Regions from separate parts of the Homo sapiens genome. Here region 2 is linked to region 1. Evidence: fine-mapped expression QTL. A gene starts in region 1. The other region holds a variant in brackets. All regions are shown on one strand. Distances are between the middles of the regions.

Region 1 (4,269 bases):
TATGTGACTTGTTGAAGGGGACACAGTGAGTGAGTGTCAGAGCCTTCATGGGAACCCACGTCTCCTGTGACTGAGGCAGGCCTGAGGGATGTGCCTCTGTTTCTCATGGAAACTCCTTGGCGCAGCCCAAGGCCTTGAGATGCTGCCCCCTGCCAGGCCAGGGTGTGGGCTGCCAGCCACCACAGCATGGGGGCCTCCACTGTCCTGAACTTCAGAGGCTTTGCGGGGAGGGCTTATAGGCAGCCAGGAGACAGCCTTCTCTGGCTTTTAAGTGAATCATTTATAAAATGTTGACAGCATTTCTCCTCAAGACCTGCCCTCAAATCAGCAACCGATTAGAGACAGTAATTCATAACTTTATCAGATGAATTTTTATTGGGGGTCACTATGCTCCAGGTCTTGTGTGGGGCACTGGAGAGGCAAAGATGAAACCTCCTTGAGAAACTGTCAGAGTCATGTGACAATTCACCATCACATAATGAACAAAGTGCTCTAAGATCTGAGAAGACGAACAAGTATTCTCTGGGCTGGGGGTTTGTCCTTCCGGCAAGAGAGGACGGCAAGGTCAAAGGCAGGGAATTGCATGGGTGTTTGGTGGTGCTTAGAGGGCACTGGGACCAGTGGTAGGAGGGCAGTTGGTGGTGAGGCTGGAAAGGAAGGCAACGGCTCGATTGTGGGAGGCCTTCTAGGCCTCCAGCTCTGTGGCTGAAGGGAGAAGGTGAATGCTTTGTAGGCTAGGGGATAGCATGATCAGGTCTAGGTGGTGCAAGATGGCTCTGAGGCAGTATGGATGGCAGAGCAGCAAGGCCCCACACCTGCTCTAGGGGGTGTGCCAAGGGGTCTTGACCCCAAACTGACTGAGTCCCTGGAGCCTGAGCATGTGGACCTCAGATATGCAGTGGCAGAAGGCTTCCAAACTGTGAAGGAACCGGTAGCCAACACCATCTACACTTCCAGATGGTGAGCCCATGACTTACTTAAAGAAGCTTCCTGTTATCAGTGGGTGGGCACTCGCAAAGAGGCTCTGTTCATCTTGTGCCTACAAGCCCAGATCCAGTCAAAGAGCACGGGCATGTTCTCCTTCCTTCCTTGAGGGTTGGCCTCTTTTTCCGTGGGCATAGCCGACATCAGAGCCAGCGCCCCCATATTTCAGCATGATTAAGCCTTGCCATTTTGGGGGTGGCTGGGGGCGAGGGGAGGGGCTACTGTGTTTCAAAATGGAATAAACAGAAAAGCAATATTGAAAGAATGAGGAGGTTGTTTACTGAGGCTTGAAGAGATGACAGGTGTTTCCTCCCAGTTGAGAACCAGTGACCCCTGGGAATCGCATTTCCCGCTGAGCAGGCGCCCATGGCGGGCTGAGTCCTGCCCATGCCCTGGTGGCCTGGAAGCCTGCATGGGCGCCGTGCAAAGATCAACGTTTTCCAGAGGAGCTTTTGGGCTCATCACTGGCCTGGGGAGGGCTTGACACGGGGTTCCCACAGCTTGCCCCACACCACCTTCACACCCACACACAGCAGGTCCCCGCGGGGCCGGTGCAGGCTGTGGCTGCCCGCGCTGCGCTGTTGCTCTGTCCCAGCTGGCTAGCTCCGAGTGTGGAGCGCTCTGGGCCGGGGCCGCTGGGGCGCGCACAGTGGGGTGACAGGCGGCCTGGCTGCAGAAACGTTGCACCGGTGCCTGAGGTGGGAGGATGTGATGACGCGGCCCACGCAGCGGGAACCCAGGCCTTTAAAAAGCCCAGGAAACAGCCTCAGCTCAAGCGGTGGCTCCACTGGAGGAAAACACACCCCGGTCTCACATTAAAGAAGCCAAACTGTCGGCTTCAAAGAGAAAAGGCAACATCCTGTCACAGGCCATGCTCTGGCAAAAACGTAAGTGGTTTGGCTGTGGCTGTCAGACCCAAGCGAGTGCCAGCGGGGCAGGGCGATCACAGCTTGGTCTGGAATTGGGGAGCTGGTGGTGGAGGTGATGGGGCCACGGGGGGAGGGGGTCTGGGTTCCAAGCCCCGGAGCAGGGAGGGGGGAGGTGGGCGGGATGGAGCCTGGTGGAGAAACCAGCCTGTCAGAGGTGATGCTGATTTTCCAGGCTGGAGGGGAACGAACTAGTGTTCCAAGGTGGGACGGCTCAGGGTACCTCCGCTTCTGTGCATGAATCACTGTGGTGAAGAAAGGGCAGTTTATGATTCACACAACAAAAGCCAGATGTGGGATGGGTTTGGGGTTGGGAGGGAAAAGCCATGCAGTTCTTTACAGGAGGGGCTTTATTTCCATAAGCAGTGGCTCTTCAGCCTTCTGTTGAATTCCCTGGGCCTGTTTCTAGCTGAGTGACTTAGCTTTCTGCCAGGTGTGACTTGTCCCTGTGGATACCCTGGGAGGAGTGGAGATCTGGCTCGGTGAAGCGTGTCCTCACTTGCTCCACTGTCTTGCCTTTCGTCATTCTTTTTCCCCTTCTGTGACAAGGCTTGTCCATCCCACTGCAAAGGATGCAGTGGGTTTATCTTTGGCCTTGATTTTTATCCCCGGAGTTGGATGAAACAATTGTGAACTTTATTTTCCTTTATGTGGACCAAACAGCGACTTACCTTACTAATAACTGAAATAATACAGATTATTTACAACATTCTTTTCACGAGGTAAACAGCGTCAACTCATCAGCTTCTGAGAGTTGAACCTTATTGGGGCTAGTTCTATACTTCCTCAAGCAAGAAGAATGACCAAAAATTGCTCTGTCTTTCTCTTAAAGATTCTTGGTTCCTTAAAATTCGTTTTAATTAATTTTAGTATGCTGTGCCTCAAGCAAGCTTAATATAAGAGAATCTAGATTTACAGAAGAAGATATATTAGGGAATGTTTTTATTTTATGGAAAGATACTTGATTGGATCCACTAAAGTTCGGAAAATATAACTTCATTGATTAAAATGTGACACTGTCATCACCAATTTATTGTTTGCTTTATGTCTTATGTAAATTTCTCTGGAATTAAGCTGATTAACCAGTAACACAGAAGAGTGATTTCAAAATTTCTCAGGTTGTGAAGACCCACCATTGTTTGATATCAAAAGGTCAATTTTTTAAAAAAATAAAGAGAAATGAGCTTTAATTTGGGTTTGAGAGTTATGGACTCCTTCCAAGATAACTAGGAATATTCAAGAATTGTTGGCACGCCACTCTTCCCAACAGGCGATGGAGCAGCGGCAGCCTATCCTTTCTGGGACAATGGCAGCTGACCCTGTTGTGAGTGCTGTGTGGATGAGAGCAGGTGGGCATTCATCTTTTTACTGGGGGCCCCTAAGCATCTGTGTGCCCTTTCACTCAGGGCTGAATCATTTGATTTTTGTGTGAGCCCCTGGAAGGAGTTTTGCCTCAGCTCCTACCTTCTATGAGCAAGCCACTTTCCTTTTTCTCAATCCTTAGGTTTTTTGTATGTTAAGTGGGGGTAAAAATCATATCCACACTGAGGATCTATCCTTAGTAAGTGAGGTGCCACCGAAGTCATGTTCATTGCTCTGTCTGCATCAGCCTCTGAGATATGAGTTGCTTCCCTGCATTCACCATCTGCCATATTCTCCCCTCTTGGTTCTGTAGTACATTTTTTCATTTCTAATTCCTTCTAAGAGATGAACAGACTTTTTTTGTTTGTTTGTTTGTTTTTTGAGACAGAGTGTTGCTCTGTTGCCCAGGCTGGAGTGCAGTGGCGCGATCTCGGCTCACTGCAACCTCTGCCTCCTGGGTTCAAGTGATTCTCTCGCCTCACCCTCCCTAGTAGCTGGGACTACAGGTGCCCGCCACCACACCCAGCTGTTTTTTTTTTTTTTGTATTTTTAGTAGAGATGGTGTTTTACTATGTTGTTCAGCCTGGTCTCGAACTCCTGGACTCAAGTGATCCACCCGCTTTGACCTCCCAAACAGGTGTGAGTCACTGCACCTGTCCCCCAAATTTTTTAAAGGGGATGCTGGAGGGCATGCTTCCTGCTCACACCCTGGAGACCAGTCAGATAGATCAAAACTCCATTGTAAGGGAGACCACATTGTAAGCTCATCAATGGAATAACTGGGGTGAATGTTTCCACATGTTCAGATGAACACAAATCAAAATTATCTTGAATTGTCCTTTAAGCCTTAAAGGAAAAGTAGGAGAGACCCTGGGCTCTGGACCCACCCCCTTAGCCTGAACCCAAGTATGTGGTATAGAGGGCACCTGGGTGACTAAACCGTGTGGGAAAATCAGTAAAAACAGGGCAGCATGTCAGCCCACTTAGAGTCACCCGA
Region 2 (4,269 bases), 46 kb before region 1:
CCTGCTCAATTTCACAGCTCAGAGAGGTCTGTGATGTGGCTGCCTTTTTCCAGAAAGAAGAGCATCTTATTGTGAATGGATCTCACCTTTCCTCTAGTCTCTAGAGCTGAGATGGGTAGAGAACTGATCCTTTCTTAATGATTTCAATTTAGTAGCTCCACTTTGCTGGGGTATATTTAACAGCATTATGAGAGAAAAGAGATGTTCCAATAGAAAATGGAGGCAGGCAGGGACTTTTTCTTACCCACTTATGAAGAAACTCTGTCACTGAGATCATTCTAGGTCTCTTCAAGGAAATAATATCCTTGTGGGGAGTTGATTTTCATTCTGTCTTTGTGACTTCAGTGGTGGGATTGTAAATCAATTGTGTTTGCAAAGACTGAGAAATGTTCTGATGGCGCTGGTGAGCTCCCAGGGAAGCTCCAGAAAACATGCTCTGCTAAGGCACATACACTTTGAGTAAACTCCGGGGTGATATTAACTTTCCCACACCGGCCTGGGAGCTGGCTGTGCCAAACCTGCCCGGGCCTGCCTGCCTCTGATGCAGTGTGATACAGGGGCGTGGTAAGGGGAGTGTAGGTGAAGAAGCCTTGGGTGCTGGTGAAGAGGGTGACTTCTGATCTGGTCTTTCTCATCTAGTGGTGGTCATCATCTGGAATTCAGGCCGGCCTGGGCTCTGGTAGCAATGGGAAAACTGAGGAGTCAGGATCTCTGGAGCATGGAGGGAGAGTCACTGTGAGAGGAGAGCCCAAGGTGTGCTAGAACTATAAGGGAACACTACAGATTGAAACACCTTGTCCACCCACCACCGCTACAATGCAAACCCCTTTCCCTATCCCTGCCATATTTGCCATGCATATTTCTGCAGTACATTCTCTCTATTGTGTGTTCTCCTTTTCTTTTGCCAAAGAAAGTGTCTTTCCAAAGAGCTTTGGAGACACGGAGAGAGAACCATGGGTGCTAGAGTCTTCTGCCAGGAGGATCTATACAATGTGTAGATACAACCACTCTCAATCCAGTCCTCCTTTCCATTTTTTTTTCATTTCCCTTCCCTTCCTCTGTCACTGCTTTCATGGTTTCTTGGCAATTCTCACCTCTCTCTGGCTGGACCACCCACTTTCTCATTGTGGGAAGACACTGAGCATACCCCACATGAACTCATCACCCTCCTCCTTGTCCCGCTGTGCTCCTCTTGACACCCTGGTTTTTGGATAATGATGCCAACATTCTGTAAATCACCTAGGCACTAGAGCCCAGGTCAGTTTCTCCTTTTTTTTCTTTCTTTGAGACGAGGTCTGGCTCTGTCATCCAGGCTGCAGTGCAGTGGCGCAATCTCGGCTCACTGAATCCTCAACTTCCAGGGCTCACGTGATCCTCCCACCTCAGCCTCCCGAGTAGCTGGGACTGCAGGTGTGTGCCACCATGCCCAGCTATTTTTAAATTTTTTGTAGAGATGGGGTGTCACTATGTTACCCAGGCTAGTCTCAAACTGTTGAGCTCAAGCGATCTTCCCACCTTGGCCTCCCAAAGAGCTGCGATTATAGGCGTCAGCCACTGTGCCCGCCCTCAGATCCATTTCGATGCTTTTCTTGCCCTTGCTAGTTCCCAGATTGAGTGTAGTCTGCTTGGTTAGTATCTCTTGCATTCATACCCTATTTTTCTTCCTACCTACTGCTCTGATTTTGGTAATTATCTCTCATCTGGGTTACTACAGTAGTTTCTTAACTGAAATTTCAATATTTCCCGTCTTTCTTCTTAAGTTTTTCTTCTACTATCGGGCCAGATAAATCTTCTAAAAGGCGCTGATCATAACCTTGCAGCATTAAAAACTGTCATTAACTCTCCATTGCTAACCCCCAAGTCCCCAGGCTCCTTAAATGGTCAGCACTGGGGGCTCTCCAGTCTTCTTTTTCGACTGTATCCTTGGAGGGACTATGAGCTCCATGAGGCCAGGGCTCCTGTGTCTTTTGTGTATGTGTTTATCTCCATGATCAGCATGGAGCCTGCCTATGGTACAGAGTGCCTGGCATGCAGCAGGGCCTCAACAACACCTGTGAACCCCCTACCCAGAAATGCTGCCACTGTCTTCCAGGAATCCTTACTGCTTCTAAAAAATACCCTTCATTTTTCCTACCTCCTCCTTTGCACACGTTCTGCCTGGAATGCATGCCCCATGATAAAAGTTTGTTCCACACCTACCCATTTTCCCAGGTCCAGCCCAAATGGCGCCTTCCTTCATGTAGCCCTCTATGATTGTACAGAAGGACCTGCTCATCCGCTTTCTAAACTGCCATGGCAGTTTGTCCCCTCTCATGGCCCTTGACATCACATCTCTTCTCTAGTAAGGTTTGAGCTACTTGGGGACCGGGCTTGTTTTTATTAATCTTTTAAAGTACCTAATACAGCCTGGCTCACTGCAATCTCTATCTCCCAGGTTGCAGTGATTCTCCTGCATCAGCCTCTTGAGTAAGCTGGGATTACAGGCACCTGCCACCACGCCTGGCTAATTTTTGTATTTTCAGTAGAGACGGGGTTTCACCATATTGGTC[A/G]GGCTGGTCTCGAACTCTTGACCTCAGGTGATCTACCCACCTCGGGCTCTCAAAGTGTTGGGATTACAGGCGTCAGCCACTACATCTGGCCTAATTTTATTGAATTAATAAACAAATGCTTAAGTGACCGTAAATCTTTTATCTGCAGGCTTGGTTTATTAATAACCACATAACCTTACCACTTAATGATGATGAATGACTTTGAGGCCAGTTAGCATTCAGTTTATTGGCCTCAAATAAATGAATTATTTGGGTGGATTAACCAACTGTAATAAATGTGAACAAATTAGCACTGTCATCTTACAGCAAAAATTATATTGAGGTGAATTCCATGCCAAGTTGTGGGGCAGGACGCCCAGCATTTTCGCGTTAACTCATCATCTCCTTTCTCACCCCATGGTGTTCCTCTTGACTCCTTTGTTTTTAGATAGTGACACCAACATTTTGTAAGTCATCCAGCTCTAGAGCCCAGGCTAGTTTCCTTGCTTTCCTTGCCCTTGCTGCTTCCCAAATTGAGCATCATCTATCCGTGTCACTCTCAGTATCCTGGGGCACTGGATTGTATCGACTTGGGCTGTGGATGGGAGATGCCCTAAAGATGAACCTGTGAGGGCCTTTAGTGTTTCTCTAGCTAAGAGCTCTCTGAAGAACATGTTTCTTGCGATGGGCAGGATGGGAGAGGCTGGTCAAGCCTCTGAGCCTGTGCTCATTTCCCTTCACCTATTTTGCTCCTCCATGAGGCTTCTGTCACCACTGGTGGTGGTGGTTCTAAGGCTGTGGTGACCTGGGGAGGGTCTCTGTGGTGACTTAGCACCTGGGGAGGGAGAGGTCTGGCTTTCTCGGCCTCCTCTTCTGGCAGGGCCCTGAAAGGAGCTCAGGCCTCGGAGATTTCCTGGTTCCAATGTCCTTTCGTCTTAACAGTCCTCAGCTCACAGCTCCTCCAGAAAGTGGTCTTTATGTGTAAGGAGCTGAGTTTTCATCCTGGCATGTCTCTCATCTTTCTATGCCTTAATTTCCTCATCTGATGGTGATATCTATTTTTTGAGGGTGGTGGCATTGTTTTTGTGTATTAAATGAATGTCATATACTTTGAGAACCAAGCATGTTATATTATTATTTATTGTCATTGATATCGACAGGTCCTTTGGAAGTTGTCAGCTTGGGCTCAGCTGCCTGTGGTGTAAGGGTGGGCAAGGTGTCTAAGAATTCCTTTGGGGAGGGGTAGGCCAGCTCTCTGGGAGGTAGTTAGTAGGAATGCTTAACTGAATGGTTTGGTGCACATGATGCTTTGAGATCGGTGCAGTGGGGACCTTGGAACACATGCCATTAGTCTGGCCCAGGCTGGGCTAAGGGCCTGTCCTGGGAGTTATTTCAAGTTTTGACAATGGAGATATGGCACTGATGTAAAAGGATTTGATTCTTAGGATCTTCCAGATAATGCTGCCCTTATTTGGGAGCAGTGGATTGGGGGAGAGTTGGAAGATGTTCCCAGAATCTAATTTCTAGGGGAGAGAGTGCCTCATTCGGTCTCCCGGGCCCGCCACCACAGCGAGCTCTCAGTAGGGGGAGCTCTGTCACTGCGGTGGCCCTTCTTGCTGACTCGGGGTGGAGGGGCTATCTAGGCACCTGAGGAAGGCTTAGGAGTGGCCAACAGGGGTCTCTTCTGCAGGAGGAACCTGAGGTGTCTGCTGAGGAGCAGCCAGGTCAGGAGTCACTGGCT

The links.
Region 2: its variant is fine-mapped to the expression of POU2AF1 in whole blood (TOPMed, PIP 0.97).

What each region holds. Positions count from the first base shown.
Region 1 is chr11:111,376,764-111,381,032 of GRCh38, reverse strand. POU2AF1 (POU class 2 homeobox associating factor 1) reads left to right here and starts at 1,758. Exons shown (of 5, transcript NM_006235.3): 1 at 1,758-1,871. The coding sequence starts at 1,856. RefSeq lists enhancers at 602-821, 1,042-1,131, 1,782-1,831.
Region 2 is chr11:111,423,047-111,427,315 of GRCh38, reverse strand. It overlaps a transcript of BTG4 not described here. Among named protein-coding and RNA genes, the nearest start is that of POU2AF1, 46 kb to the right of the region's middle. The variant A/G (reference allele first, on the strand shown) is at 2,550.